Linked DNA regions of Homo sapiens. The protein of the gene in region 3 interacts with the protein of the main gene of each other region in a pairwise test. Each region holds a gene or a part of one and is shown on either strand. Other genes may lie near its edges.

Region 1 (7,728 bases), on a different chromosome or scaffold from region 3:
TCTTCCCCTAGTGTCACCAATGTCATGCTTCTCAGATACAAATGTGGGCTTCTCCTTTAAACCCCAGTCCAGAGCCCTGGGGTGAACAGCTCATACTCCCTCCCACGTGCGTTTCACTCTTTGGACTGCACCACCCTCACAGCTCCAGACCTTCACCACGGCCTCCCATTGCCACTGCTACCTTCTCCCCATCCTGGCCCCTATCCTAGCCATCTCCATGGGCTCCCACGAGTCACTCTGCACATGGCATCCAGAGAGTGCCTGGCAAACATAAGCACCATCCCAGCCTGCCCCAGACCTTTGATGGCCTCCACTGCCAAGGGCAACACCCAGGTAAGGGGGAGAGGGAGCGCTCCACCCTTGCCTTGGAGCCCCCTAGCTCCCCTGGCCTGGCTTCAACCTAAGCCACCCACGGCACACATGGATGTCACATACACTTGGCCTTCTTTGTTGCACATTCTGACCCTGTCATCACTCACACTCATTTAAAAAAGAAAAAAAAAGCCAACCCCTCTGGCCATCCTACCCCCACCCACCTAAGCCCAGCAACTCTGCCAACTGACTCCTCTTGCCCCAAGCTAATTCCCCAGCCTGAGGACAAACCCCATCAAGGGTCACCACAGAAGCCTGGTGAGAACATAGGTGAGTGTGTAAGCACCAGCCCAGGCCTCACTGCAATATTACCTCCTCTACTGCTAAGCCTCAGCATCCATCTCATTCATGTCTACACTCTTTGGGATGATCTGGCCACCTGCCAGACCCTCTGATACACCCACATAGCCCCTCCATCACCACCATGACCACTACTGTTCCTCACCTGTCTTTATGATGCCAAACAAGCCACAGTCCCCAAGCAAGAACCCTGCTCTCAGTTTTCCAGCCCCACCTTCCTCTTTTTTTTAACATCATTGTCACCATGACCTGAAGTTTCACCTCCTAAATCTCACACACAGCTACACTCCCGTCCACACACCAGATGTCACATTTTGGATGTTTCTAACTGTTGAAATAAACAAAGACCAATGAAATGAGAAAAGCCAAGGCTACTTACTCAAAGCTCACTATAGCAAGAGAGACTCAATGCAAGCCGGGAGTGGGAGAGTTTTATAGCAAAAGAAAAGGAAGGCTTCAGGCGTGCCCTGGTTGGAGGCTCCTGTTCGTAGGTGGGTGAACTAGAAGTGGGCATCCTATGTGATTGGTTAGGGTGCGTATCTGCCTTTCTCTGGTTGTTCTTAAATCAGAAGCAGGAGCAAAAATGAGGAAAGCTGTCTGTTATTAATCAAACCCTGGCCATTTGGGACTGCTCATTACAGAAGTTATTGTTTTTACTTCCTGGATTGTCAGTCCAGATAGCAATCTGGCTTCCTGTGGGTCTGACAGACAGCAGGCTGGCTTCCTGCTGTATGGGTTGTTTATTGTAGATAAGGGGGTTGGTTTCCTGGGCAGGTTCTGGGGCAGAGTTCTATTTGTATACATGATCTGGCCATTGTTCGAATGAATATCCAGTCTCTCATTACCTTAACAACTCCCTCAGAACACCCGAACTGTGTGTTCAGCGGCCCACTCTTCAACTCCATTTGGGGGTCTCTGGGACATCACAGGCTCAACTTGGCCAAAACCTAACTTCTACTGCTTCCATGGAAAATTCCTCCTAAAACCAACTTCTCAGTTCATAAAGCTGGATTCATCAAACCAAAAACCATGGATTCTTCCCTCCTCTTTCTCACCCTCCACATCGGAAAATTTGGTCAGCTTGACTTAAAAGACATCAAGTTCCCAATCACTTCCTCTACCTCCAGTCCTCACTCTGGTCCGGCCAGCCGCAGCACTGGCCTGGGCTATTCCATTAGGCTACTCCTTGGCATCCCTGCTTGCGGCTCACTCCATATTCAGTTCTCCACTGTGCATCCACAGGGAGCCTGTTAAGACCTGAGTCACAGCATCTTCCTCCTCTGCCCTAAACCTTCCATGGCTCCCAACACCCTCAGAACAGAGGCCCAGCTCTGCCGTTCTGAGCTGTCTTCAGCCCACCTGCTCTCTGGTTCCAGCAGACATAATATTAATAACACTGACCTGGGTGGGGTTCCTTGAACACTCCCAACTCAGTCTCCACACCGTGCCCCACCCCACCCCCAAGCTTTTGCGCACGCTGGTTCCTGTGCCTACAAAGCCCTTTCTCCCTCCATCCCATTACATTTCAGCAACGGAAGCCACTTTATATAAACCCTGCCCTGATTCAGGATCCTAGCTGGGAGCAACTCCCTTCCAGGGTCCCCTGACTCAAAAGCAAGGAAATGGGAAAGGCGAAAAGTCCTAGAACAAAGCCATCTTTTGCGTCTCAACACCGAGAACAGAAGCGTGGGGGGCCGACAGCGAAGGGCCTAACGTCCAAGCACTCACCTGCGCGGGGTCCCGCAGCGCCGCCGCTGCCATCGGAGTCTGTGGTCAGAGCAGGGCCCCACGGTGCGGGAAACCACGGGGCGGGGGTAGGGGGTCTCGCAGGCTGAGGCTACCACCCACCTGGCCGTGCCCCAGACGAGGTGTGACCCCGGGCTGAGGGTCGCACTCCTAGCCTCAGTCTCCCCCGTGCAAAATGCGCAAGGGGCCCGGGGCGCAGGCTCCGGGGGCGCCGAGAGCGCGCAGCTCCGCTGGGTACCCCCGTTGCAAGGGGTCACGGCTGGTGCAAAGGCGCGGAGGGGGTCCCGGCCTCACTGTCCCCCTCGCGGTCCGGGAAAGCCGGCGGGGCAGCTTCACGGGCGTAGCCCCAGCCGCCCCGCCCCCAACTCGGGGTCCCCAGCTCCTGGGGACTCAGCCTCCCCGCCGGGAAATGACCTGCGAGGCTGCAGTGCAGGAAGTTCCGGCCCCCACCGTGGCGGCCGGGAGAGTTGCCCTCTCCCGTACTGTCATTGGCCTGGCGCCAGCCGCTGGTGCACAGGCAGGGCCTGGGGATCGCGAGTTTCTGCCCAGCCTCTCGTCAGGCTGAGGGTCCAGGGCGGGAAGGAGAGCGGATCTCGTCGGGTCTCCACCGCCGCCGCCTGCAGCCCTCGGGCCTTCCCCTTAAAGGGGCCGCTCCCGAGCCTGCAGCCGCCCGCGCTAAACCCCGCCCACCCTCCGAGGTCCAGGAGGAGAGCCCCAGTGCTCTTCCTGCGCGTGTGGGCATCGGCCAGCCGCTTCACCCCTAAGGGACCTAAATTCACACTGGAAAATGGGGATAGTACCCAATGGGCGGGGTCTTTGCGTTGTAATATTAAATGTCGCTCTGATTCAGGGCTTCTCAAACCAGCAACATCAGCATCACCTGGGGACTGGCTGAAAATGCAGGTTCTGGGGCAACAACTTAAATCTAAGGACTCAGAAATTCTGGGGATGGGATTCAGCCTTCTCTACTTTTTGCGGGGGGGGCGGGGGGGATGGGTCTCGTTCTGTTGTCCAGGCTGGAGTGCAGTGGCCTGATCATAGCTCACTGCAGCCTCCATCTCGGGCTCAAGCTATCCTCCTGCCTCAGCCTACCAGGTAGATGGGATACAGGCGTGCACCATCATACACAGCTAATTTTAAAATTTTTTGTAGAGACTGGATCTCCCTGTGATGCCTAGGCTGGTCTCAAACTCCTGAGCTCAAGTGATCCTCTCACCTCGGCCTCCCAAAGTGTTGGGAATTGCAGGAGTGAGCCATGGTGCCAGGCCTCCTTCTCTGTTTTAACAAGCCCTCTGGGGACTCCAATGCTGGCTCCAACTTTACAGCAGGGACTCTCATTGAAATCCAGTAAATAAAATGGGAAAAATAACACTACATTGTTGCAGGAAGTCAGGGACCCCGAACGGAGGGACCTGCTGAAGCCGTGACAGAAGAACATTAATTGTGAAGATTTCATGGACATTTATTAGTTCCCCAAATTAATACTTTTATAATTTCTTATGCCTGTCTTTACTGCAATCTCTGAACATAAATTGTGAAGATTTCATGGACATGTATCGCTTCCCCAATCAATACTCTTGTGATTTCCTATGCCTGACTTTACTTTAATCTCTTAATCCTGTCATCTTCGTAAGCTGAGGATGTATGTCATCTCAGGACCCTGTGATGATTGCGTTAACTGCACAGATTGTTTGTAGGGCATGTGTGTTTGAACAATATGAAATCTGGGCACCTTAAGAACAGGATAACAGCGATTTTCAGGGAACAAGGGAGATAACCTTAAAGTCTGGCTGCCTGTGGGACGGGCAGGACAGAGCCATATTTCTCCTATTACCAAAAACGGGTAAGAGAAATATCGCTGAATTCTTTCCCCAGTAAGGAATATTAATAATTAACAGCCCTGGGAAAATAATGCATTCCCAGGGCAGTGCCTCTAAAATGGCTGCCCTGGGAGTGTCTGCCTTATGCACATGTAGATAGGGATGAAACACACCCTAGTCTCCTGCAGCGCCCCCAGGCTTGCTAGGATTAGGAAATTCCAGCCTGGCGAACTCTAGTCAGACCAGTTCTCTGCTCTTGAACCCTGTTAAGATGTTTATAAATGACAATGCGTGCACAGCAGGACATGGAAGCTCATGAGTGATTCTAGTTTTGCCCTGACCTTGTGATCTCGCCCTGACCTTCTGCCTTGTGATCTTTTGTTGCCCTTAAAGCATGTGATCTCTGTGACCCACACCCTATTCGTACACTCCCTCCCCTTTGAAAATTGCCAATAAAAACTTGCTGGTTTTATGGCTCGGGGGCATCACGGAACCTGCTGACATGTGATGTCTCCCCCAGACACCCAGCTTTAAAATTTATCTCTTTTGTACTCTTTCCCTTTATTTCTCAGACCAGCCGACACTTAGGGAAAATAGAAAAGAACCCACATTGAATTATCGGGGGTGGGTTCCCCCGATACTACATGTCATATGGTGAAACCACCTTTGTAAAAATTATAACTGAGAAAATTATGACAGTGAGAGATCTGACCTAACCAACTCCATCTTGCTTCTAACCTCCAAGCTGTCCTTGTTCGTTCCTGAGCATAGGCCTAACTAACTTTGGGAGAAACTCAGTTTACAGTTTAACTTTGAAGCAAAGATAACAGCCCTTTCCCTCTAGGCCGGGCATGGTGGTTCACCCCTGTAATCCCAGCACTTTGGCAGGCCGAGGCAGGCGGATCACGAGTTCAGGAGATCGAGACCATTCTGGCTAACATGGTGAAACCCTGTCTCTACTAAAAATACAAAAAATTAGCCAGGTGTGGTGGCGGGCACCTGTAGTCCCAGCTACTCAGGAGGCTGAGGCAGGAGAATGGCATGAACCCCGGGAGGTAGAGCTTGCAGTGAGCTGAGATCGCCTCCAGCCCGGGCAACAGAGCGAGACTCCATCTCAAAAACAAAAACAAACAAAAAAACCCAGCCCTTTCCTGAAACAAACCCTCTTCTTGTCTGGGGACCAGACTGCCTTTGTAGGATTAACAAAAGCCACAAGATTAGAGAGTATGGTTTAGGAGTCATGCAGCCAGGGGCCAGGGGTCACAAGATTTTAAACCTTCCCAATTGCTACTGGGGATAACATCACTATTGTAAAACCTAAGATTGGTGCTCGAGATATTTTTCAGACCCAGCACTCGATGGATCAGCTAGTGCCACCCAGATTGATAAACTGGGTCATCTGGTCCTGTGGTCCCCACCCTGGAATTTACTCAGTGCAGTTAGTCAACTTTGACTCCCTGTGATTTCATCTCTAACCCAACTAATCAGCACTCCCCACTACCTGGCCCCCCACCCACCAAATTATCCCTGAAAACCTCTGATCACTGAATTTTCAGGGAGATCAAGTTGAGTAATAACTCTGTTTCTCCCATGGCATGGCTGGCCCTGTGTCAGTTAAAGACTTTGTTTACTGCAATGCCGTGGTCTTTTTGTAGCAGGCAAAAAGAACCCATTGGGTGGTTACAATGGTAGATAACAGGGCCCAGGACAGAATTCCTGCTGGGTGCATAAAAGCTATTGTCATTACCAACACCATCATCACAAGAATCTTACAAACACTGCTGTGGGGCGGCAGGGAAGAGACACCTCTGTGCAGTCTTTTGGATGTTTGTCAAAATATACAATGACTCTAACTCAGCAAGTACCGCCTCAGAGGGAATAGTTATGATTTTTACATGAAAGCACACCATAGTAACATTTGCCTACTTGATTTTATTTTATTATTTTCTTATAGCTGCATTTTTTTGTTTTTCTAAATTTATAAAATAATATATAATTATTGTATGCAACATGATGTTTTGAAATATAGATACATTGTGGAATTGATAGGGACAGGAGGTAGGGAAATTCTGGGCAGAAGAGGCCAGGTCCATCAAGCTGAAAATCTTGATACCACGGCCCAAAGTGAGAACTTACATCCCTGTTTTCCCACTCAAATGTTGCCTTTTCCAAAACCACCCGTGGCTCACCCTGCCCCCCATCCTATGCCCATAAAAACCCCAGGCTCAGCCGGCAGAGAGAAGAAAAGCAGCTGGACATTGGAGACTATGGTTGGATGTTGGAGAGAAGCAGGCTGACTTCAAAGGGACAGCTTGACAGCGTAGCTTTGGAGAGGATGGCCAGGGATGGCCAAACTTCAGGGGACGATTACCTTCCTGCTCCATCCCCTTTTCAGCTCCTCTTCCTGCTGAGAGCCACTTTCACCGGCAATAAAATCCCCTGCATTTACCATCTTCAATTTGTTTGTGTGACCTCATTCCTCCTGGATGCCAGACAAAAACTTGGGTGCCATGAGTGTGGGTACAAAAGGCTGTCGCACTGACCCTCCACTGAGCTGTTAACACTTAAGCTATGCATGGATGGCAAAGCTAAAAGGGCACTGTAACACTTCGTCAGGGGCTTCAGGGGTCACAGCACCTTCCCCTAGACACTGCCGTGGGGCTAGTATGGAATTTGCTCTTGCCAGCACCCAAAAGCCCTCACCCTGTCTCCTGCACCCACTCACCTGTGCTCCCCTCCCCATGAGGGGTGGAACAACAAGCGAGTGGAGTTCGTCCCTGACAGCGCCCATGTACTCTAGTTCCCATCCAAGAAGGGGTCAGGGAAATATCCTGCTTCAGAATGACTAAATCAAGCTCATTAACATATGCATCACTTCACATTGTTTTGTTTTGAGACAGGGTCTCATTCTCTCACCCAGGCTGGAGTACGGTGGCACTATCGTGGCTCACAGCAGCCTTGACCTCTTGAGCTCAAGCCATCCTCCCACTTCAGCCTCCCGAGAAGTTGAGACTACAGACGTGCACCACAACACCCAGCTAGTTTTTTGTATCTTCTGCAGAGATGGAGTTTCACCATGTTGTCTAGGCTGGTCTCAAACTCCTGGGCTCAAGCACTCCTCCTTGCCTTGGTCTCCCAAAGTGCTGCGATTACTGGTGTGAGCCATGGCACCAGCCTTAGTTATCTTTTTTGTGTTGAGAAGACTTAAAATCTACTCTTTAAGCATTTGTCAAGAATACACCGTAACTACAGTCACCAGGTTGTACAATAGATCTCTTGAACTTATTCCTCCTAGCTACCTGAAATTTTATATCCTTTGACCAACATTGCCCCACTCCCACCACCTGGCAACCTCAGCCTCTGGTAACCAACATTTCACTCTATTTCTATGAGACAACTTTTTTAGGTTCCATATATGAGTGGGATTATGTAGTATTTGTCCTCTGTGCCTGACTTATTTCACTTAATATAATGTCCTCCGGTTCAACCT
Region 2 (7,000 bases), on a different chromosome or scaffold from region 3:
ATAGGAGGCCCTTGTATACCGGAGGGCCAAACTGGGAGGGATCTAGGGTCAGGTACAGTTCATTGCAAAGTTAAGTAGAAATGGCTTGTGGATTATTTTATTTTATGTATTTATTTATGTAGAGACAGGGTTTCCCTCTGTCACCCAGGCTGAAGTGCAGTGGTGCAATCACAGCTCACTGTATCCTCGACCTCTCAGGTTCAAGCCATCCTCCTGCCTCAGCCTCCCAAGTAGCTGGGACTATAGGTGCACACCACCATGCCCAGCTAATTTCTTTAAATTTTTATTTTCTAGAGATGGGGTCTGTGTTGCCCAGGCTGGTCTCAAACTCCTGGACTCAAGCAATCCTGCCTCCTTGGCCTCCCAAAATGCTGGGATTACAGGCATGAGCCACCACACATGGCCTGGATTATTTTTATTATTATTATTATTATTTTTTTGAGACGGAGTCTCACTCTGTTGCCCAGGCTGGAGTGCAGTGGCATGATCTCAGCTCACTGCAAGCTCTGCCTCGCAGGCTCACGCCATTCTCCTGCCTCAGCCTCCCGAGTAGTTGGGACTACAGGCGCCCGCCACCATGCCAGGCTAATTTTTTGTATTTTTAGTAGAGACGGGGTTTCACCATGTTAGTCAGGATGATCTCGATCTCCTGACCTCGTGATCGGCCCACCTCGGCCTCCTAAAGTGCTGGGATTACAGGCGTGAACCACCATGCCCGGCCTCCTGGATTATTTTAAATTCACTGTGGTAGATCCCATTGGCAGCCAAATTAGGATAAGATGTGACCTCAGTGGGTAAAATGACTCTAGGACAGGTGAATGGCTCTGAAATCAGGTGACAGGTCAGACCAGGCACCACATGGGGGAGGGCCTAGGTAGAAGAGTGAGTGTACATGTGTTAGGTGGGGCCATGGGTGGGCCCTGCAGGGTGGCCTCACCTTGGCCACCTGGCCCCGCAGATCATGCAGCTCGCCCTCCAGCGTGCGCTTCTCACTGAGAGCAGTGCTCAGTGCGGCCTCCTTGGAGTTCAGCAGAGCCTCCAGGTCCTTCAGCCGAGCCTGAGCAGCTATCAGGTCACCCTCCTTCTTGGTATTGCTAAAGAAGAGAGGGGAGAGTAGATTTAAGAGAAGGAGTCTGTGTGCCTAGACAGTGCCAGGCTCCCAGGAGGTCAGCCATGGGGGCTGGCGCTGCTATGCCTGCAATTACCAGGAGAGGGCATCCTTGCATTAGGTTGGTTTGCATCTGCTTGCCTCTGGGGCTGGGCTCCCACCTCCCCAAGGTCCTTGAAAACCCCCTTCCTGCTTCTCCACCCTTCCCATGACTCAGGGCTCAGGAACGTGCCTGGGGCCAAGGGCAGAGCTCTACCCCGTGATATGAATGCTTTTCCCTCTCTCTCCTCCCATTCTTTCCCAAAGAGACAGGGGTACCTTTGTCTCCTGCCCCTTCCCACACAGGGCCTTACTTAGCCTTCTCCCTGGACTCTACTCACTTCCCTTTGGCCAAGCTTCCCTCCCTCTGAGGAGCCTGACAACTAAGCTCATGGCCCACATGTCCCTAGCACTTCTCGATCTGAGCCCCAAAGGTACTGGTCACCTCTCCTAGTCCCTTTTACACATGTGGGACTGTGGGGAAGGAAAGTCTGGTTAGAGCTCAGAGGGACCTCAGACAAGGATGACCAGGCACAATATTGACCCTTTCCTTTCTCAGGACCCAGTCTGGGTGCCCTGATCTGCACTGAACAGAGGGGTCCCTGCCTCCCTCCCTCCTGCCTCATCCGTGCCCTGGGAGAAGGCTGAGCCCTACCCATCTACCATAGCCTCAGCATCTGGTTCCAGATGTGGATCCCAGGCCTCCAGGTCCATCTGGGCCCCAGCTTTAAGCCTCCCTGCTCCTCAAAGTGGGTAAAGCTTTAGCTATAACCAGTCGAACAGCGCTGCCTCTGCCACCTCCCTCACCTTTTCTGGGCCCCTGATTATTTTTGCTAGTGGACTGGAGAAATAGAAAGGTCCTATTTTCTTAAAAACCTCCAGAGAACCCAAGAACTTTCTAGATGTTACAATTGCTTCACAAATATAGGGTGAGAGAAAGCAGCAGACCCAGGGAGCGGAGGGAAAGATCCAGAGGACCTGGTTCCAGCTGCCATCTGTAACTCATCAGTGCTTAAGCATGAGCCCACCACAGCAGATGGAAAAAAGGAAAACCAAGCGTGGGCAGAAGGAAAAATCTATCCTGGAAAGGAGAAAAGCAGCCCTGCCAACATTTTTCTTCTACCACAAAAGTCCTAAACTCCAAGAGGCCCAGCAATTCACTGTGAAGAGGGATAGGGAAGGCTAGATTTGCAGAAGCTCTGGAGGACGAGACCCAGGCAGTGTTCTGCTTAGGAGAGTCCAAAAAAGGAGTCACCCCCACCTCCCCCCACCAGGCAGGGAGGAGGATAGAGTGACACTCAGAGGGGCAGGGGAAGGACATGAGAAGCCAGAGGAAGCTCCCCCAGCCTGCACACTTGCTCAGTCCAGGCCTCTGGCCACACCTCAGAACAAGTTGTTTAATGTAAGTGTCTGTCTCCTGCAAAAAAGAGCCCCTTCCAGAACCGGAGAATGTATTCCCTCCTCTGTCTCAGTCAGAAAAGCTAAAAATAAAGTCAAAACCCAGCTCAGGTTTTGGCTGCCATCCGGCCTAGCCCCTGGCTGGGAGCACAGCCCCAACTTTCCATGACTTCAGAACTTTTCCGAAGCTGAAGCAGCTGCAGGGGGAGGAGGGAAAATGAAGAAAAACCGCTGGTAAAGTGAAGCAACTGGGGCAACTTAGATTCCGAGCTCCTTGGGCTGACCCCCAGGCTGGCTGGGGCTTCCCAGAAGAGGCCTCTCTACCCTGAAGGCTAATGGCTGCTGCTGGCTGTACTAGGAGGCTCTCAGAATTTAGAGAACTAGAAGGAGCTTAGAGTTGATTCAGCTCAACCCTCTCCCTTTTATAGATGAGGAAACTGAGGTGCAAAGGAGGAAGGTGAATGGCCCAGTGTCAATTACCGAAAGCCAGCAGCAGCATTCCAGTCAATTCTAGCTGCTGATCTAGGGTTCCTCCTCCTCCACCTCACTGCTTTCCTAAGCCACAAGTTCCAGAGAGAATGGAGAAGCCAGGAGGAGGAAGAGGGCAGACACTATGGCACAAAGCGTTTCCCTGACCAGCCAGCCTGAGCTGAAAGAAGCTGGAAGGCAATGGGATGATTTCAGAAGGTGTCTCAAGGGCACCTTTTCCCTAGTCCTGTCTCCCCAGCCTCCTTAGGTGCCAGGAGGAATTCCTGGAGTTCCCCCTGGTAACAGCCTTTCCTTGCCAGTGCCTGGCAGACACTGACTGAGGAAAACATAGATGCATGATCCCTGTGCTCTGCGAGCTTATGGGCTGATGAGCACAGAAGTTTTTTCTTCAGTCTAACCTCTTCACCTTCTGCTGCTTGCAAAAGCGGTGGTGGCAGTGATAATAATAATATAATAGCAAACACTTATATAGAGCTTATTAGGTACCAAGCACTGCTCTAAATATTATGTTAACTCACGTCATCTTCACAGCTACCCTATGCGATAGGTGCTATTCCTATGCAATTGAGGAAATAGGCACAGAAAGCTATATCTAGGGTCCCGCAGCAAGTAGATAGGGGAGCTGGAAATCCATGCTGTACCACTTTGGCACAAGCCACAGTATATGGTCTCCAAGGAAAGTAAGGGGGCTGGCTGAGTGTGGTGGCTCACACCTGTAATCCCAGCACTTTGGGAGGCCAAGGCAGGTGGATCACTTGAGGCCAGGAGTTCGAGACCAGCCTGCCAACATGGTGAAACTCTGACTCTATCAAAAATACAAAAATTAGTCGGGCAAGGTGGTGCACGTCCATAGTCCCAGCAACTTGGGAGGCTGAGACACGAGAATTGCTTGAGCCTGGGAGGCGGAGATTGTAGTGAGTTGAGATTGTACCACTGTACTCCAGCCTGGGTGACAGAGTGAGACTCTATCTCAAAAAAAAAAAAAAAAAATTTAGCTGGGTACGGTGGTGTGCACCTGTAGTCCCAGCTACTGAGGAGGCTGAGGTAGGAGGATCACTTGAACTTGGGAGGCGGAGGTTGCAGTGAGCCGAGATTGTGCCACTGCACTACAGCATGGGTGACAGAGCGAGACTCCATCTCAAAAAAAAAAAAAAAAAAAAAAAAAAACAGTAAGGGGGTTATTTGTCTTTCCCTGGTGGAGGTTTTGACTAGCACTGCAAAGAGAGGAGATTAAAGGACTAAGACACACCCTGCAGATGAGAAAAACCACGAGCAGAGAGGGAAGTGAGGAAGAACCTTTGTGGTTTTCTTAGGCACGGGGAGCTCCCATCTGCGGGGAAGAAGCCACTATCACCCATGGGCTCATGACTCAGACCTTGGGAGCTCTGTGGCCAGGGAGCCACACGCACACCCCAAGAGATGACTAGGGGTACAGTAGAGCCCAGTGTCTCTCCTCCCTCCTCCCTGCCCCCGCCCCCAAGTGCCATTTCCTTCCTAGGAGGGGTCCTCAGACCTAGCAGGGACCAAAGTAGACCCTAGCCAGGCATTCGGTCCCAGGGTGGTGGTGCAGCCCACTCCACTGGGGGTTGGCATCAGGAAAGCTGAGCACACGCTGAGTGCCGTCCCCGTGCTGGGTTGGCAGGGAGGACAGGGTGGGGCAGGCCAGAGGAGCTGGGAAGGGTGGGAACCTGGGCCCCTCAGGTGACTCATGCTCAGGCACACAATACCCGGGCAGGGGTCGGGAAATCCTCTAGTGCTCACAGGGGAGACCCTGGCTTCGCCCGTGTCCTGCCCCAGGCCGGGTGCTGTGCCAGCAGAGTGCCAGTCCTTTCCCTTGCATCCTCCAGGTTCCCCAAGCACAGGAGTGGCTGCATCCCAGTGGCCTCTTGAGGCGAGAAGGGCTGGGCATCCTGTTTCTAACTCTTCCCATCACTGGCAAATCTGATCTCAGAAAGAGGGAAGAGAGGGGGTGGGGAGGGGAACAGAGAGGAAAAGAATAAGGTAGAAATGAGAGTTGGCACTTGCAAATGTGACCCAAGGCAGGGGTCTGAAGAGCTGTGCCTGGTGGGACAAGGAAGTCCGGCTCCCCAGCTGCAGCAGGCCCGGGCCCTTGGGGCTGTTTGGGGAAGAAAGGCACCAGCACAGCAAAGGGGCTAGGTGGGCACCGGGCCAGGCGCTGACCCACCCTCTGAGTCACCCTGCTCAGCCCAACTCTGATGCCAGATATGGAAGCCAGGGCCGGCCACAGGCCTGTTTGGGCCCGGTTGCTGGGGGCAACAGGCTAGGCCCGGAGGGAGAGGCCTCCGTTTCCTCTCCCAATCTGGGGGAGAAGCAAGAGGGACAGACACTGTAGCTAAAAATAACAAGTGGGAGGGGAAGACAAAGGGGAGGTGGAGGAGCTGGCCCAGCCCTGCAGGGACTCCTTAGACCCACTCCTCAGCAGCCCTGCTCACCAGCCCTCAGAGTTCCCCATTGCCAGGCAGCACACAGGAAGGGAGCAGAAGAGCAGAGGGTCTCCCAGCCCCTGGGCATTTCCTGTCTCCCAGGAACATCGCCCCCTGTGGCCGGGTGGGTACAGGGAGTCCGCCTGGTGGCAAATGCTCTCCTGTATCCTCCTGGGCATCTAATTTGTTTAATTTTAATTTAAAATTTTTAATTGTTTAATTTTAAAATTTTTCATTTATTATTATTACTATTATTATTATTTTGAGGTGGAGTCTCATTCTGTCGCCCAGGTGATCTCACTGCAACCTTCACCTCCCAGGTTCAAGTGATTCTCCTGCTTCTCAGCCTCCCGAGTAGCTGGATTACAGGCCTGCACCACCATGCCTAGCTAATTTTTCTATTTTTAGTAGAGACGGAGTTTTGCCATGTTGGCCAGGCTGGTCTCGGACTCCTGACCTCAGGTGATCCACCCGCCTCCACCTCCCAAAATGCTGGGATTACAGTCATGAGCCACCGCGCCCAGCCCCTATTATTATTATTTTTGAGACAGAGTCTCACTGTGTTGCCCAGGCTAGAGTAGAGTGGCGCGATCTCGGCTCCCTGCAACCTCCACCTCCCAGGTTCAAGCAATTCTTGTGCCTCAGCCTCCAGAGTAGCTGGGATTACAGGCGCCTGCCACCACACCCAGCTAATTTTTGGCATTTTTAGTAGAGATAGGGTTTCGCCATGTTGGCCAGGCTGGTCTTGAACTCCTGACCTCACGTGATCCTCCTGCATCAGCCTCCCAAAGTCCTGGGATTACAGGCGTGAGCCACCACACCCAGCCCCTCCTGGACACCTAGACCTCTGCCCAGGCTGACTTCCCGCCATGTGACAGGGCGTCTTCTGCTGCCACCCCAAGCCACTCCTACCACCCCTCCTTTTGTTCCAGCAACTCCTCCTACTGCAATATATCCTCCTTCTCTCTGTCCCTCCCTCCCATTCACCCAAAACCTCCCTACCCCTCAGCCTACTTGAGCCTGTCTCAGCTCTGCCCTGCTGATTTCAGCCAGTGTTCTACCTGTTGGGTCGTGGGGCTTTTTCTGTGTGTCCCACAAATACCCGGAGACTAGACGGTTCACAGGCTCAAGGCTTCTAGAGGAACCTTCTCTTGAACCAACTCCTATACTTTTACAGGGGGAAACTAAAGCCTGGAGACGGGTAGGCTCAGGCACTAAAAACCTGCCCCCAGGTCACCTGAGGACACTCACAGCAGATTGGTGCAAAACATAGAAAATGGCACGATACACACAGACACTGCAGAGAATAACACAGAGAGACCCAGTAAGACAGTCTGGGAAGCGTGTCTGCCTCTGTCTCGCTTGCTGGGAGATACCCCAGTCAGAGAGTGATACGGAGGCCTAGTGAAAGTGCCACTCCCACCCACCCTCAAATATACACATACTCACACCTTTGTGTGCGGCCAATCATGAGGTTTGATAGCCCCTACCTCCCCCCCAACCCGGCAAAGTAACCACTGCT
Region 3 (7,205 bases):
GTGCCACCATGCCTGGCTAATTTTTTTTGTATTTTTAGTCAAGACGAAGTTTCATCATGTTGGTCAGGCTGGTCTCGAACTCCTGACCTTGTGATCTGCCCACCTCAGCCTCTCAAAGTTCCGGGATTACAGATGTGAACCACCACATCCAGCCAGAAATATCTTTATATTAGAAAAATTAGGCCAGTGACTCACCCTGTAATCCCAACACTTTGGGAAACTGAGGGGGGGAGGATCATTTGAGGCCAAGAGTTTGAGACCAGTGTCTACTGTTCTCATTTTTTTTTTTTTTTTTTTTTGAGACAGGGTCTTACTCTGTCACCCAGGCTGGAGTGCAGTGGCGTGATCTCGGCTCACTGCAACCTCTGCCTCCTGGGTTCAAGTGATTCTCCTGCCTCAGTCTCCTGAGTAGCTGGGATTACAGGTGCACACCACCATGCCCGGCTAATTTTTTTTGTATTTTTAGTAGAGACGGGATTTCACCATGTTGGCCGGGCTGGTCCTGAACTCCTGACCTCAAGTGATCCACCTGCCTCGGCCTCCCAAAGTACTGGGATTACAGGAGTGAGCCACCGTGCCTGGCCTACTGTTCTCATCTTCATATCTGTGTGTACCCAGTTCCTCCCCATTCAGCTGGTCATTGAGAGACCTGTCAAATTTTCTTCCTAAATAATTTTTGGATCTGCCCTTCACCATCCTTGGTGGTGAAATGCCAGGTGGAACCTTTATTTCCTATCTGAATCATAATAGTTTGATTGATTTTTCTGCCTTGCTCTTTGCAGAACCATTCATTATACCTTCGCCTTACCATTTTCATTCCCCTACTAAAATGTTAACCCTGGGTAGACAATTAATAAGCCTTTATAACAGGGACAATCATCCATTCTCACCAATTCCATTTATTCTCATTTTCAATGAATGATATCAAGGGGTCTTCTCATTAACTTCTCAAAAAGTATAAACAGAGTTACCATGGCAGTGAATCGCCATTGCTTTTTTTTTTTAGTACATTTTTTGCTGCAGTCTATTTTGCTGGAACTATTGCTGCTAATTAACAGCTGGTTTTTAATAAATTTGCTTGCAGCTATTTGCTTTGCCCATTTATAGGAGTTAATTGTGGTCTCGCTGCTGCTGAGTGATTCCCTAACACAATATGCCTGTGATTCTTTACAGAATAAACTATGTTGTCCTGTTTCTTGGAAATCACAGGATTAATTAACTGAGAAGATGTTAAATTGAATTTTAAACCAAAGTCAGATGAAGGCTTACTGGCACAAATTTTGACTAATGTCTTTTTAATGTCTTATATATTTAATTTGCTGAAGTCAGAATATACTGTTGGTAATGCATTCAGAGCTAGGTTTGGGGTTTCTTTATTCTTCTCTGCAGTCTTTAGGGTATAGTTCTTATTTCTCATTTTGCCCTTCCTTTCAGCTCCCCAAGACTTGTCTTTTGATATTCACAGACTCTGGATGGGTTTTTACTTACTTTTCTAAAAAATATTATTGTTATTCACAGTGAGTGCGTTTTAGCAGCAGTGTTTCTTTTTCAGTTTTCCAGAGTATCAGGAAATGCCCTGGTGATAGTTTTATCTATTGTAATCAGTCCTTGCTATTTCAGGTTCTCCTGTGTAACACTAGACTCCATGGCCCCTCATTATACTAGATTTGGCAAATATCTGACAACTACGTTGCTCAAGTCAGGCTTTAGGTCACCTTCAAACTCTTGACGACCACTACCACTTAGAGAAAGTAGCATGATGTAATATAAAAGACCTAGGAAATGGTCAAGAGACTTGGTTCTACCACTCACTAGCCTTGTGACCTTAGTCAATTTCACCTTTGAGGCGGGGGCCGGGGGAGACTTGGTTTCTTTATTAAATATGGGGGTTAGACTGGGTACTCCTCCACACCCTTCCCAGTATGAATGCCATTGGTACATTGGAACTGGGCCATTCCTAGTATTAGGAATGCTTGCTTTACTTGGAGGTCTTAGCTTTAGTTGGAGGTCCAGAGGGCAATTCTTGGCCCTCTAACAGTTCAGATCCACTCATGGGAGCTAAAATGGGCTAAAGTGGAGGCACTAGTGTGAACCCAGTCACTATGTGGCTCCATAAAGCCTGCCATCTCTGGAGCTGTGATGAGAGGGTCATCACAATTCCAACAGATCTTAAAGCCGGGAAGTGACATTCTACAGATTTGAACCCAGTTCTAAATTCATATTCTTTTTGTTATATCCCTTGCTTCCTCCACAGAGTAAAGATTACAACACTGGTGCTTTTATCATCTTTAATGGATTGGGGATATGGCTTATAAAGAGTAAAAATTACAGTAGATACATAAAATAAAAGAAATTGGCTGGGTGCCATGGCTCATGCCTGTAATCCCAGCACTTTGGGAGGCCAAGGCCGGTGGATCACTTAAACCCAGGAATTCAAGGCCATCCTGGACAACATAGTGACGCCCCGTCCTACAAAAAATACAAAAATTAGCTGGGCATGGTGGCACGCGCCTATGGTCCCAGCTACTCCAGAGGCTGAGGTGGGAGGATCGCTTGAGCCCAGCAGGTTGAGGCTGCAGTGAGTTGTGTTTGCACCACTGCACTCCAGCCTGGGTGACAGAGCAAGACCCTTTTTCAAAAAAAAAAGGAAAAAGAATCCTCTGACAACAATTATTGCATGAAATCTTTTTTTTTTTTTCAGATATCTTTATACAGTCATAAAAGTATATAAAACCTAGGTACAATATAAAAAATAATTATAGATCAATCTAATGTGGCCACCACCCATGTTAACAAATAGACCATTGCCAGCACCCCAAAAACCCTATGTGCCATTGCAGATCACAGCCCTCTACCTCTCCCCAAGAGGTAACCACCATTCTAACTTTCAGGATAAGTACTTCCTTGTTTTTCTTTGCAATTTTACAGTGTGTGTACCTATCCTCAAACAATATAGTTGTTTTGCCCATTTCTGAACTTTATATAGATCATACAATATGTACTTGTCAGTGCTTTGCTTCTTTTGCTCAGTATTATATTTGTGAGATCTATCCATGTTGTGGCATGTAACTGTAGTTCATTCATTTTCCTTGCTTTGTTTCACTCCATTATAGGAATAGACCACAATTTATTTATCCATTCTGCTACTAATAGATATTTGGGTGATTTCCCATTTGGGGTTATTGAAGGACAGTACTATCCTGAACATTCTTGAACATGTCCTCCCTTGGGACTCATATGTGGGAGCTTCTCTGGTTATATTCCTAGGAGTGTAATTGTTGGTCATAGGGTATGCAGATTTTCAAACAACTGTGACTGCTGAACTTAATTATCACCAGTACTTTTAATCCATATTTTTTTTTTTTTTTTTTTTGAGACAGAGTCTTGTTCTGTCACCCAGGCTGGAGTACAGTGGCGCGATCTCGGCTCACTGCAAGCTCCGCCTCCCAGGTTCACGCCATTCTCCTGCCTCAGCCTCCCGAGTAGCTGGGACTACAGGCGGCCACCACCACGCCCGGCTAATTTTTTGTATTTTTAGTAGAGACGGGGTTTCACCGTGTTAGCCAGGATGGTCTTGATCTCCTGACCTCGTGATCCACCCGTCTCGGCCTCCCAAAGCACTGGGATTACAGGCGTGAGCCACCGCGCCTGGCCTAATCTATACATTTTTGATGAAAATTTAAAGTCTTCTGTTCTCGTCTAAAAAGGTTTGTCTTTCCTATAGAAAAATGCAAGAATGGCAGCAGAAAAGCATTATTCTAATACCCTAAAAGCACTAGGAATATCTGATGAGTTTGTTTCAAAGAAAGGCCAAAGTGGAAAAGTACTTGAGTACTTCAACAATCAAGAGACGAAAAGTGTCACTGAAGACAAAGAAAGGTAACATATATAAGATGTCTGAATGGCTTACCTTTGAAAAAATTATTACCTGCAGAAAAGCACAATTTTATACTATGTATATTTTTTGTTCTATATTGTTTTAAAAAGATCTTTTACCCAATAGTAAAAGACATATGAACTGTTGTAAAACACACTGATATTTTAACATGTTTGACACATTAACGTTCACATGAAGTATTTTATTTTTAAAGCAGAATAACAGATTTCTTAAAGACATAAGTAACAAAAATAATAGCATGCTTTCAAATGAAGTTTAAAGAAACAATCACTCAAATTTTGAAATAAATTAGTTTTCAGGAATATTAAATTTCTCAATGGGCACTTTTATAGCGTTTTCTTCTTTTTTTTGAGTTGTCTTGGTAACAAATTGGAATTCATACACTTGAGGAAGACTGGCTACACGGTGGCATACTTGCAGAGGGTTTGTTTACCTTTAAACCAACTCATTTTTCCTTTGAAAGATTGATAAATTTCTTCCCCTAGCTTTAATGAAGAAGAAAAAATAGAAGAAAGAGAGAATGGGGAAGAAAATTATTTTATTGATACCAACAGCCAGGATTCTTACAAGGAAAAAGATGAAGCCAATGAGGAAAGTGAAGAAGAGAAATCTGTTGAAGAATCACACTGAATCATCAAGGTCTCCTCTCTATGCCCTTGCTGTTGTTTGCAGCGTCAGGGTGTCAGCAGCCGCATTTGTGTTTAGAACATCTGTGGGGACGCTTCTGATATGTGCAGGGCTGTTGATCAAAGTCATCTGTAGCCTGAAAAGCCTGAATCCAGCTGATTGGTCATTTGATCAGTTAGAGTAAGGCTTTGCCTATTCAGTTTTAAAAATCATTGTGTATTATCTGTTTGCAACTATGATTTTGTATTTTTAAAAAGTGAGAACCACAGCTGTCACAAACTGATTAGTTATAAAAATATACATTATTTCATTAATTTTACTGGAAAAAATGGCTTAGTATTGAAAGGAGAGAGAAGTATTGGTCTTTGGTGGTTTACTTTTTAAAAATTTTGGAAAGTGTGAATCAATAACTATTTTTAATTATACTATTTGCCCATTCTTTTTCTCTGCAGTGCATTTCACAGAATAAATCCTCTAACTTGTTTTGCTGCTCTGAGCCATTTTTAAAAGTATAGAAAAAACGCCGGGTATGGTGGCTCATGCCTGTAATCCCAGCATTTTGGGAGGCCGAGACGGGTGGATCACGAGGTCAGGAGATCGAGACCATCCTGGCTAACACGATGAAACCCCGTCTCTACTAAAAATACAAAAAATTAGCCAGGCGTGGTGGTGGGCGCCTGTAGTCCCAGCTACTTGGGAGGCAGAGGCAGGAGAATGGCATGAACCCAGGAGGCAGAGCTTGCAGTGAGCCGAGATCGCGCCACTGCACTCCAGCTTGGGCAACAGAGCGAGACTCCGTCTCCAAAAAAAAAAAAAAAGTATAGAAAAAAATGGATACTTGCAAATTTACATTTATTTTTGCACTGAGAGTTTACTGTTAAATTGTCTACACCATCATCCCTTTTTCTTTTTATCCTTAGTTCTAGTCCAAATTATTTTTGATTTGTAAATTATTAGGAAAGTTTTTATACTAGTTTTTTTAACCCTATGTATTATTACAGATGGAAGTAATTATGGCATGTGTGAGTTATAATCTAAATTAGGGGCAAGTATCCCTTTTTTTATATGATGAAATTGTGCATAATAACTTGGCTAGGGCAAGTCTCCAAAGTAATTCAGATTTAACTCTTCACTGCTAGACCCAGTTGTGTTCAACTTTTTACATATTATTGCCAACACACTTTATCTCTCTGTGTACAGTGTTAATCTGATTTTATAAATCTATATTTTTTTCTTTAAGCAAATTTTTGTTTTAAAATTTGAAGCCAATCATAAAGATAATATAGCATAAGACATTTTCTTTTCTAAAAACAATCAGCATCATTTTAAAAGGATGAACTAATACAGGTGTATGTAATAGCAGTGTTTCCAAACTGGCAATTTATGCTTTAAATTTAAAAATAAGGTCATTTTTCTCCATCAGGGGCAAATGTTTACTTGTAATTTTCTTCCTACAGTTCGTGTTAAATTACTTTTTACTATTATTATATTGTAAACTCCTTGGGATTTGGCACCATTTAAAAATTCATCTTTGTATTCCCTTAATATTTGGAACAGTATTGTACATATGGTAGGTACTTAATAAAGGTTTGAATGAGTGTGTAGATGAATATGGTTTTTATATACTTACAGCTACTTCAGAATGAGTACACATGGGATTAAAAACATTTCCCTCCTAGCTCATTGGGAGCCTGTGAAACACAATCTACAAATTGTAATAGTACTTAAAACATTACTTGCTTTCAAGGATTCACTCCACAGCCTGTCCCTTCTCAATTTCATGAGGAGAGTGTGGGCTTTGGTCATGAAACACTTGGCTTCAGGACCAATCTTGTTTTCTTACCTTTAAAAAAAAAATGGGAATATTACCTATCTTGAGTGGCTGTAGGAAGGACTGGATGAAATCATATATGGAAAGGTCTTTGCAAACTGTGATATTCAAATGATGGTGTCAGAAGACAGAATATTCCTGAGGAAACTGTTAACTTAAAATACTTGTACTTAAATGAGATACACTGTGATTTAAATATTATTTGGTTAGAAATAACTTTTGAAGCACTTTGTTAGACATGATCTGGTTAACACAGAACCAAAGTTAAAAAAAGAGGGAGAGAGACACTGACAGTTTCAAATCATTCTGTGCATATCACTGTTCACTTTGGGAGGCCGAGATGGGTGGATTATGAGGTCAGGAGATCGAGACCATCCTGGCTAACACGGTGAAACCCCGTCTCTACTAAAAATACAAAAAAAAAAAAAAAAAATTAGCCAGGCGTGGTGGTGGGTGCCTGTAGTCCCAGCTACTCGGGAGGCTGAGGCAGGAGAATGGCCTGAACCTGGGAGGCAGAGCTTGCAGTGAGCCGAGATGGCACCACTGCACTCTAGCCTGGGTGACAGAGTGAGACTCCATCTCAAAAAAAAAAAAGAAAAAAAAGACATCAAATTGACAGCTGAAAGATTACTTTAGCAGGTCACATTACACAGTGATGGTTAGAAGTCAACTGGTTAAATCAAACATGTTTTCAGGTGTTAGGTAACTGAAAATTTTTTACATTTGTATCATCTGAATTGGCTCCAGAATTCTTTTTACTTATGGGATTTTCCTTTATACAAGAGTAACCTAACATCAAGAAAAAGGTTATGCTCTTTTTTTCTTTCATAATATTACTGGGTACCCTAT

Evidence for each region. Proteins that work in one complex are often made in the same cells at the same time.
Region 1: the proteins of FAM161A (region 3) and ZNF792 interact in binary tests that used the Homo sapiens proteins (3 or more experiments, as listed by UniProt).
Region 2: the proteins of FAM161A (region 3) and LMNA interact in binary tests that used the Homo sapiens proteins (3 or more experiments, as listed by UniProt).

Annotation. Positions count from the first base shown.
Region 1 is NC_000019.10:34,961,230-34,968,957, forward strand, and holds the start of ZNF792 (zinc finger protein 792), read right to left. Parts: upstream 3,001-7,728; 5' UTR 2,434-3,000; coding exon 2,401-2,433; exon of another isoform or gene 2,197-2,400; intron 1-2,196. UniProt on the Homo sapiens protein: May be involved in transcriptional regulation.
Region 2 is NC_000001.11:156,124,711-156,131,710, reverse strand, and holds part of LMNA (lamin), read right to left. Parts: intron 5,542-7,000; exon of another isoform or gene 5,508-5,541; coding exon of another isoform or gene 5,488-5,507; intron 5,157-5,487; exon of another isoform or gene 5,060-5,156; intron 4,976-5,059; exon of another isoform or gene 4,909-4,975; coding exon of another isoform or gene 4,796-4,908; exon of another isoform or gene 4,762-4,795; intron 1,885-4,761; exon of another isoform or gene 1,862-1,884; coding exon of another isoform or gene 1,803-1,861; intron 1,095-1,802; coding exon 938-1,094; intron 1-937.
Region 3 is NC_000002.12:61,823,778-61,830,982, reverse strand, and holds the end of FAM161A (protein FAM161A), read left to right. Parts: intron 1-3,724; coding exon 3,725-3,879; intron 3,880-4,383; coding exon 4,384-4,528; 3' UTR 4,529-6,135; downstream 6,136-7,205. UniProt on the Homo sapiens protein: Involved in ciliogenesis.